Linked DNA regions of Homo sapiens. The protein of the gene in region 1 purifies or fractionates together with the protein of each later gene. This does not show direct contact. Each region holds a gene or a part of one and is shown in the gene's direction. Other genes may lie near its edges.

Region 1 (3,660 bases):
TTTTGTTTCCATTTTAAACTTATTTTATTTTTTATCCAGGAGCAAAATATAATATACTTAGTTGCTAAGTTAATTAATAGCTGATTGAAATGGAAGATAAGTTTTTCATTGGCTTTACTTATGTTTCCTAGATTTTGTTATTGTTGAAGATCTAACAGTATTATCTTTGCTAAAATGTAGTCATTATCATTTAAAAAATATTTTGTTAAAATGTCCTTCTACTTTGCATGTTTGAAATATTAACCTTTTTGAATGAAAGTCTGAATTTTTACTAAAGTGTTTTTTTTTCTAATTTGTGTATAGCATTTTAGGCATTTTGTTTAAATAAGTAAAAAGTAGTAACAAATACTTAATAAACAAGTTAATTTTAATTTACTTAAAATTATGTCACTTGGTATAGTAAAAATATCACTTGCTATAACAGATAACCTTCCCCAAATCATGTTTTAAAAGACATCCTGCTTCAGTTTTTAAAAATTGAAAATATTCATGTGCTGTTTCAATTTTTGTTCTTACACATTCAACTATATCCTTCATATTTGGCATTTTGATTTATTAGGCAATCTTAGCATTAAAGACTTTTAGCAAAGCAGTGCTGGATCTCAAATGCACTATGCATGGTGCCTATGATGAATTAATTCCACTAGAGCACAAGAGTTATCATTATTTAAACGCTAGTTTCTTTCAGAAGTTTTAAATCACAGTCAAGTTTTCAAAATTAGAACTTAACTAATATTTTGAGGTAAACGTATGAGGTTTCTTGTTACATATGTTAAGTTTTCTTAATATTTAACTCTTTCTTGTGTGAATCTGCATAGAAATATTTAATATTTGATATTGATAATTGATCAAAGATTAAGGAGGTATTTAAGAATATATGTTTTAAATTTGATGCCTTACTTTTCTTAAAATGTCATATTCAAAACTATTTGGATTTAATGCATATGTTTGATTAAATAAATTGGACACTGGAATGAATCAGATATTAGACATAAAGTGTCTTTCAAGGTCACTGTAATCATTTTGTTTAAGAAAAGTTGACGAAATGAATTGTTAGAAATGTTTTATATGTACTGTTATTTGTTCTTAGTTTTCTGGGAAGTCATTTTTTTTTCATCCATTTGTTTTGATTAAATAGTAAGACTCCTCCACCAAAATGAGAGTTAATATTAAGGCACTAAGATTATAAGACAGACTGTTTATGTAGAATGCAGAGTGTGGTTCAAAGTAGAGGCTATTTTTATCTTCTTTATAATCCCTGACATACATAGACAGATTGATTGATCTATCTTTATAAACATATATAGATACACATATTCATGTGCACACATATACACATGGGAATGTGGAGTGGAAAAGAGATAGGGAGCATAAGAAACAGGGAAGGAGAAGAGATGAGAAAGAAGACCATAGAGAAAGTTGAGTAAGCAACAAGGACCAGTAGTGTCCCTGGTGGTGGCTGAGATAACACAATTAACTATGCTTGTCCAGGTCAAGTTTCAAACTTTTAAACATTGCTGCGAATACGGAATAGGATACATGCAGGTTTCTGTTATCACTCTGGCATGTAACTATCTCACATGATACAGTTTTATACCAATAGAACATATAACTCTACGAGGAAGAAATAAAACCAACAAGTCTAGCATTCAGTACTACCCTATCATAAAGTAAGGAGGCCTAATTGAGCTATGTCTTTATATCCTGCTATTTGTACAAATAAAAGACTACATCTTGATGCAAAATAAACACAAAAGCACTGTTGTGACTATAACAGGGAGTCATATACTAATTTATATAATAAGTGGTTGTGCACGCTTTATTCAAGATTATGGCTGCAAGAAATGGCATGAATTGCTGGGTGTGTTTAATGCTGGATTATAGCAATTTGAAACATGTCAAACACATGGCTAATGCCTCATGCTTCACTCATTCTTGCGTAAACCTGCATAGCCACCATCCATTATACCCTTGGTAACAACACAATTCTGCAAGTAAATATTGTTACACTAAGTAACCTTTCAATTCAAGTTGTTTAGGAAGAGAAAATGCAATCTTGTGCAGTCAGTTCCAGTGTCAGTTTAATGTTTCAAAAGGGAAGTGGTGTAGAGAATAAGTATCTGTACAGTGACTTGCTTAAAAAAGAAGAAAGAAAAAGGAAAGGAAGGAAAACTTAATGCAGGGGAGAAAAGTCTAACTGTATCGTTTGAGTGTAAGATCTGAAGAGTTATTTTCTGATGTGGCTGAAAAGTTGTGTACGATGAAAGACTTAAGGGTTTAACTTACAGTTCAGACAAACATTAAAACAGGGACTCCCAGATTCATCTTTCCCTTTAATGATCTGGAATTTATTTTCACTGATTTTTGTAAAATGTTTGTGGTGGGATTGATAAGAATGAATAATTTAGCTTGGTATGTTTCGGATCATAAGCACATCCACTCTGAAAGAATATGCTGAATTTATTATTATTTAAAATATACTTAAAAGGTAAACAGCACTTCACATTGTGCTGGAAATATTTCCTATATTGGGAAATAAGTGGAAGTGTTACCAAGAGAAACTTAGTAAATGCTAGAAATAATCTGCATTGTCCTTGAAAAATTCCTCCTTTATAGTGAACATACTCCAAGCTTTTTTAAGTGAAATGTACAGTATAATCATCTAATTACACAATCACCCTTCTTTTTTCATATAAGTGTTGTATCAGATACTCCTCTTTTGTAGAGCAAAAAGTACTATCACTGTTATAGTTTTCTTAAGCATTATTTTACTAACTCTTAGATGATTGAACTTAAAATGTAAATAACAGTTTATACTGTAGGGTTTTATAAAGTTAAAAACTCCACAAGGGCTAAGAATAAAATCCTTTAGTTAAAAGGAATTATAAGTTATTTAGGTCTTTCTTCGTAATTGTAATAAAGATTTAGACACATGCCTCTTTGCTTGTTGATTATTCTTAATTATTTGATGGCCTTGATTATGACACAGTAATACATGTAGAATTCTTTAATTCATCCAATTGGTCCTGAGATTTACTACACAAAGGTTAGTAGTAAATGCTGCACCTGTCTGCTACACTGGAAAATATAGTGTTTTATTTTTATTCCTTGTGTTGCTAACTCCATCCAGAAACAATAAATATTTCAAATAACTTAGGTGATGAAATAAAAACATACACATATATACACATATTCCAGACATGTTCTCAAAAGTAAAATTTAAATGCAATATGTAAAAGTTATGCCTATCTGTTTCTACAGTTGGAGAGGATTGAAATTATAATTTTCATATAACTAGTAAAGGCAATCAGACCTTTTCTCTGAATATTTTAAACATTGTGCATGTAAAATTTATGCCTAATTTGAATACTTATTAGCTGCCTAATCTCAGAAAAGAGTATTAGCTTTGTTTTTTTCTTATAAAATCCATCACTATGTATCAGTTTTAATTTATATGATTTTTTCTTTGTTAATGTTCAATAAGATGTTTAGCAAAACCTATTTGTTTATAAACACATTTCGCTCAAAAATTGTTTACTATAGTTACAGCAATTATTTCCTTTCTGCTCATGTTTTCTGTTGTTTTTTTATTATCCAAACAGCTTTAAGTTGTATATGTAATTTTTGTTACACTAACTTGCTTTGCTAGTCCAGCTATTG
Region 2 (3,081 bases), on another chromosome or scaffold:
AATGTCCTACAGATACCTGTGGCCATAGTCCCAGGCACACACCATCACTCACTATCACACACGAACACAGCCAGGCTCCTGGTCACAGCTGTCCACTGTCATGCACAAGCACACACTGTCACTTTTAAGCACTTACATAGCTCACATGGTCACACATCACTATACAAAACCACACAGAGGCATACAGCCACAGACTCACACTGTCATACACAGACACACATAGACACACTTAGTCTTTGGCTTCTCAGGCTGGAGAGGAGTCCCAGAAGCCATTGTAACCACCCCGCTGCCTCTGGACAGGAGGACTTCACTCAGCCCAGACAGAGCCCACATAGGTGACATTTAATCAGCCAGGCTCTTCTATCAGAGCATTTAACAACTCTGTGTGTACCACATGCCTTCACACACACAAACACATCCACACTATCATATAAATATATAAGCAGACACGCTACGTGGTCATGTACATGAATATCCTCACAGTACACATAAGCAGCCACAAATACTCATAAGCATACAATGTACATACGTGTACATATTCATACATGCATACACATAATCATATATACATACAAGCATACATAACAGCTACATATATAACAGCTATATGTATAGCTGTTATATGCCTGTGACAATTCATGCACACACACATACACACCCACTACGAGCAGCCCTCCTTTTTATGAAAGCACTGCTGACCTCTGGGTGCCGTGGACAGAGAATATGAAGGGAAGGGCTGACACTGACTCCTCCTGAAGCCCTGCTTCTGCTCCTACCACCCCATCTTCTCTGCCCTCCCCCTAGCACTGCTGTCTGCTGTGCGGATCAACGGGGATGGACAGGAGGTCCTGTACCTGGCAGAAGGTGATAATGTGAGGCTGGGCTGCCCCTACGTCCTGGACCCTGAGGACTATGGTCCCAATGGGCTGGACATCGAGTGGATGCAGGTCAACTCAGACCCCGCCCACCACCGAGAGAACGTGGTGAGTGCTGGGCACAGGGGTCTCCTTCCTCTAGGCTTCATGATGTCTACCTGTTGGACAGCCAACATCCCAAAGGGAGAAGACTGACCTTGAACCTCCCCCAAGGCCTTTCAGGGAATGAGGCAATGGGGATGAGAGCTCTGCAATTGTGAATTAAGCTAGCCAGTCAGTCTACCTCCTCCCATCCCATTCTAAAAGGAAGATAAGTTGTAGTCTTTGCCTTCAAAAAGTTCCCAGTCTGACCATATATCTTTCCAAGTGCTTGATCTCACCTGATCTCACCAGTTCTGTAAGAGGTCAGTGGCTCAGGCATCATTATTCTCATTTTTTCAGCTGAGAAAAGAGTCTCAGAGAAGTTCAGTGAATTGCCCAAAGCAGCCAATCCACATGGCCCTTCTTGGCTCTGCCTGTTTCACCACCTGTTTTCCTCTCCTCTTCACAGTTCCTTAGTTACCAGGACAAGAGGATCAACCATGGCAGCCTTCCCCATCTGCAGCAGAGGGTCCGCTTTGCAGCCTCAGACCCAAGCCAGTACGATGCCTCCATCAACCTCATGAACCTGCAGGTATCTGATACAGCCACTTATGAGTGCCGGGTGAAGAAGACCACCATGGCCACCCGGAAGGTCATTGTCACTGTCCAAGGTATGGCCAGACTCCTCTAAGCTCCTCTCCCCCTGGCTTAAGAGCCAAGGGCAGCTTGGCCACTTTGAGCCTGGCTCTGTCTCTTGGCTGGGCCCTGGCTTACAATTGTCTGCCTCCTTGCAGCACGACCTGCAGTGCCCATGTGCTGGACAGAGGGCCACATGACATATGGCAACGATGTGGTGCTGAAGTGCTATGCCAGTGGGGGCTCCCAGCCCCTCTCCTACAAGTGGGCCAAGATCAGTGGGCACCATTACCCCTATCGAGCTGGGTCTTACACCTCCCAGCACAGCTACCACTCAGAGCTGTCCTACCAGGAGTCCTTCCACAGCTCCATAAACCAAGGTGAGAGGGCCCTGGATGAGGGCAGTCGGGGGTGAGTGGAAGATCAGGGACTCTGGGACCTGTTGGGGTTTCCTTGGGTTATCAGTGCCATCAAATCAAACCTGGAATCCCTGTGGGAGACCCTCCCTCTGGGCCTGCCCCAGCAGCTGCTATTTTTTTTTTTTTTTTTGAGACAGAGTTTCGCTCTTGTTGCCCAAGCTGGAGGGCAATGGCATGATCTCGGCTCACTGCAACCTCTGCCTCCCGGGTTCAAGCGATTCTCCTGCCTCTGCCTCCCGAGTAGCTGGGATTACAGGCATGCACCACCGCACCTGGCTAATTTTTTGTATTTTTAGTAGAAACGGGGTTTTACCATGTTAGCCAGGCTGGTCTCAAACTCCTGACCTCAGGCGATCCGCCCGCCTTGGCCTCCCAAAGCGCTAGGATTACAGGCGTGAGCCACCGTGCCTGGCCCAGCAGCTGCTATTGAGAGCAGATGATAAGGCAAATGTGGAGAGTCAGTCAAAAGTACTATGGCGAATTTGGAGGGAGCCTGGTCTCAGACAGAGCTGGGCTTGAATCCTGGCTGGGACACTGACTGGCTCCAAGTTTAAGGCAAGTGGCTTACCCTCCCTGTGCCTTAATTTCTTCATATATGGAAAGGGAATACTAACATATACCTTTCATGGGCATGCAAGGATTAAATGGGGGAGGTGTGTAAAGCTCCTAGTACATAGAGAAGCTGAAAATATTCAGTCAAACAAAGAATAATAGAGCTAGGAGGGACCTTAGAGTTCCTCTTCCCCTGGCTTCTCCTGTCCTCACTGTACAAAGGAGGAGACCAAGGCTCAGAGAGCGTACATATTTCCCTAAGGTCAGAGTGAATTAATGGTGTCCCTGTCTTGCTGCTGGGAGAGAGGTCCTTTCTTGCATCTCTTTCACAGCAGGGGGAAGGTGACTCACCTGGAGAGTGGAGTGTGTGTGTGTGTGTGTGGGTGTGGGTGTACACACATGCATAAGCCTTCCCTTCTTCTAGAGTGGGTGTCCCATCCCCCACCCCACAGGGACTGAGGTTGGGGTGGGAGCTCTCAGAGACCAGGCCTCTCTCCACTTCACTTTCAGGCCTGAAC
Region 3 (3,760 bases), on another chromosome or scaffold:
CACAAATCTCCAAGGAGTAAACAGAAATGAAATGATGGGGCTTCAGGTAGTTCCTCCTTAGTTACTGAAGAATCTTTTAAATATGTTCATAATTATAATCTGGATTCAAATTCTGGATACCATTGAAATCAGGAGTTTCAAATGGAGAAAGCTAGAGGTACCCACATAAATGATCTAGTACCTATTTCTATTGCTTCCTGTTTCTTTTCTTTAAAACTCATCCTATAAATAGCATTCAAGTAGATAGAAAATCTTATATTTAGAAGAAAATATAAGAAAAATCTTATATGTAGAAGAAATCATCTATAGTGTAAACAAAAGATAGAGACCTTTGTGAAATATCTCCTTCAAACACAACAATAGAGAAGAATGTTGTTTTTCCCTTGTAAAAAGCAATGTCACTTAAAGACCTGGAGTTGTTTCATTAATTCTCTTAGGCAAATTAAATTATCTAATTCAACATGACATGAAATAATGCAAAAGTAAATTACTTTATCTGGCTTCCAAAAATACTAAAACTACTTTTCTCAAGAAACTAAGCAATACTTAGAATACATTCTATTACCAGGGTCAACCTTGTTTCTGAATTACAGTGATGGGATAGTGAAGACAGGAGGCAGTCTCCCTTTGAAATTCTCCAACCAACATGTATTATCTATCAATCAGAGAACAGTTAACTGCATTTTCTTTTAAGTTTATTGATGTTGCTGCCAGCCTGCAATGTTTGCATCAGGACACTCTATACCCTGTTTCAAACCCATACTAACAAAGGAAAAGGGAGACACGAAAAAGGGAAATAATATTCAAAAATATCCAGATCCCACTCTGGGCTTTTTTTCATTAAATTCTCACGTTTCCAACTTCAGTTTCTCCTTAATAAATATTTGTGGTGGTGTAAAATGTGTTCCTCACCCACATTATGTACTTTTTATCAGTGGTAATACTATGAGAAGTGAGAATGTTGTATTGTAGTTACTTTAAAATGATTTTGTAAATATCATATTGTAGAGGTTTGACTGAATAATCAAGAAAGAAAATGCCAAAGTATGGAAACAAACATACTGGTACTAGTTAAATCAGAGTTCCTTCATCTTAACTTTGTTATTTCAGAAAATCTTTAAAATTGAGAGTGCGGTTCAACCACAAGACATTTTAAAGAGAGAAGCAGGACTCAACTGAATTGAAATGAGCGTCATTATTCTATCTTTCTTCCTATACCATACTTGAGTCCTGATGACTTTCAACAATGGCCTCTGCTAAAAGTATCATTCCTTGAAGTGGGTTCTGCAGTGGACATGTGTGTGTATGTGTTGTCAGTATATGTAATTTTGCTTTTACAATGTTGGCAGTAAGAAGAAGCCTTCTAATTTTATTCAGCATGATGATAGGCCCTAGCATTTTAATTATTTTTTATGTTGTGAGTAATTTATTATTCACTGGCTATCTTCCCTGTAAATCTTGTCCTCGCTCTGTAAGGTTTTTCTTTGGTGTCCAACAAAGGGTTTCATTGCAATAAGAATCAAGGTGTGTCTAAATTCTTACCCAGAGCCCAAACAATGCCAGTCTTCCAGACCAGCCTGGGAGTTTGGGGTGGGGAAACAGTCATTATAGAATATCTTCATCTCTCTGCCCAGAGATCACCACAGTTATCACCCATGCCCTCCTAAAAGGGTGTCTCAAAGCATATCTTTCTGTAGAGCAGAATTCGGAACTGAGAAGACGAGGGCTCAAATTGAATCTCACAGGATTTGCGTGCAAGAGAAACCCAAAGGAATGGATTGGCTCTTCTTCAGAAACATTTGCCTTTTGATCATTCTAATGGTAAGTAGAATTTAAAGAGGTGGGAAGGAAATGCAGCCTCAAGGTCTTGTCTCTGTCAACTGTCGGGCTTTCTACATGGGATTTATTCCATTTTTAATCTCCTTCCTGCAAAGAGAGTTCTAGAAGTCCAGCCTCTGTTAATTTCAAACAACTCTCTCCGCCTTGAGGAACAAAATGCCATAGAGAAGCGGGGTGAGAATCTGGCTGAATTAAATTTATATGCCCTCAGAGACATAATCTACTTCACTTTGAGTGTTAGGACTATTCTAAAATTTTAAATTGGAAATAAAATTCATATTCTATGATCATATAAATAAATCAGATAGATTGCTGTGAAAACTGCCAGTGCAAATGGGTTCTAAATTTGAAGGGAAGTTAATCAAACCCATTTCTTTTCAATAGTTATTTCCCTATGAGTTTCTTTCAAAGTGGAGGAATGATAGCCATGTTGAAATTACATTGCAACTAATGATGACATACTAAAGTCATGAGAACTTTTTCCAGTCAGATATTGCTAAAGAAAAATGAAGCCCAGCCATCAAGACAAAACTTTTCTGGAATTATGAATGCATTCCTACAGACCAGCAAAGAAATATTTAAATGACTTATTTCTTTACAGTAAACATGGCATCTTGGATATTATATTTCTTTCCTCTAACCTTTGGGTGCCCAAGGTGTGACATGATTTCCAGACAGGCAGCATGCATAGCAAATATCCTACCCTAGAAAGAGATAATTCCAACTCCAAAGAAGAACAAAGTTCCAGTTGGCCAATCAACAAACTATTGCCAATTCTGGGAGGGTAAGAGGACAGGATTATTAGGAACTGTACAAATTTTTCAAAGTAAATTAAGACAAATGCATTATAGTTGGCCACACTTCAATCTCCCAGGAGTATCCAGGTTAGCGCTACAACCTAAGCTTAGAAAGTGATTCCCATCCTATTCTTAGGCAAGTGGCAATTATACCAGACTCCTCTGAACATCAGTTGTAAGAGACAGAGAGTAGCTAGGGCTGGGAGAGATGGGAGCACGTCATTGTCCAAGAGGCACAGTGAGAGCTACTCTTCTGGAATTCACATTTCTAAACTTCAAGAGCAGTGCGGGAGCCGAACACTGCCAAAGGGCACACAACCCCAAGCTCAAAAGGGAACGTGACAACAGTGGTAGAATATTGCATCCTCTGAGTTTAGGAGACAGATTATTAAACAATACCATTTTTGAAAAATATTTTTAAACTTAAAAACATAAGACGAAGGGCAATATTCTGTTACAATGATCATTATTTATTTACTAAATAAAATAAATGTTACTAAAAGAAGAGGCAAGAATCGGACTTGGTCTTCAATTGAAATAGTAAGTTATGAGGATATACCTCTTGTTACTCTTCTACCGAGTATATTCATGCTTTGACTCAGATAAACTTTTGGTTTTCTGTAAGGAAAATTGTATGTGTCAAGATTTTAGAGGCCACTTCTGAGCACTAAATCTTGCCTCCCATTGCCTTCTGCACAGGCATGATTTATGATAATATTATTTAATTGAAGAGTTGATTCTTCTCCTTGATCTTGAAAGAGTATTATACTTCAGACTCTCAGGATCTTTTTTTGGTAGTATTTATTTATTTTCCTTGGTAATACTAGCGTTTTTAATACTTAATTCCTCCTACTCCTCATTGATATTGAAGTCTTTGTGTTTGACATTTCACGGTAATTGTGAAAAAGTTCTTTAAGTATTTTTTTTCTTTATGCTTGTCTAAAAGATCCCTTACCATATCAATTAATAGTGTCTGGAATTGGGAGGTAGAGACTTCTGGCATATTTCAAAATTGAAACAAATACAAGAATTGTTTAAGGAGAATCAATGAGATGTTATAGATATTATAGGAAAGTAGACATGCCTACTTCTCTTTAATTTCCTGAACTTGAACTCTGCCCCTT

Evidence for each region.
Region 2: the proteins of FOXP2 (region 1) and VSIG8 purify together in Homo sapiens (affinity purification with mass spectrometry; 2 studies listed by BioGRID and IntAct, with this or other methods). This does not show direct contact.
Region 3: the proteins of FOXP2 (region 1) and DSG4 purify together in Homo sapiens (affinity purification with mass spectrometry; 2 studies listed by BioGRID and IntAct, with this or other methods). This does not show direct contact.

The regions. Positions count from the first base shown.
Region 1 is NC_000007.14:114,421,231-114,424,890, forward strand, and holds part of FOXP2 (forkhead box protein P2), read left to right. Parts: intron 1-3,660. UniProt on the Homo sapiens protein: Transcriptional repressor that may play a role in the specification and differentiation of lung epithelium. May also play a role in developing neural, gastrointestinal and cardiovascular tissues.
Region 2 is NC_000001.11:159,856,636-159,859,716, reverse strand, and holds part of VSIG8 (V-set and immunoglobulin domain-containing protein 8 precursor), read left to right. Parts: intron 1-804; coding exon 805-983; intron 984-1,425; coding exon 1,426-1,627; intron 1,628-1,750; coding exon 1,751-1,972; intron 1,973-3,073; coding exon 3,074-3,081.
Region 3 is NC_000018.10:31,375,139-31,378,898, forward strand, and holds the start of DSG4 (desmoglein-4 isoform 2 preproprotein), read left to right. Parts: upstream 1-1,638; 5' UTR 1,639-1,773; coding exon 1,774-1,821; intron 1,822-3,760.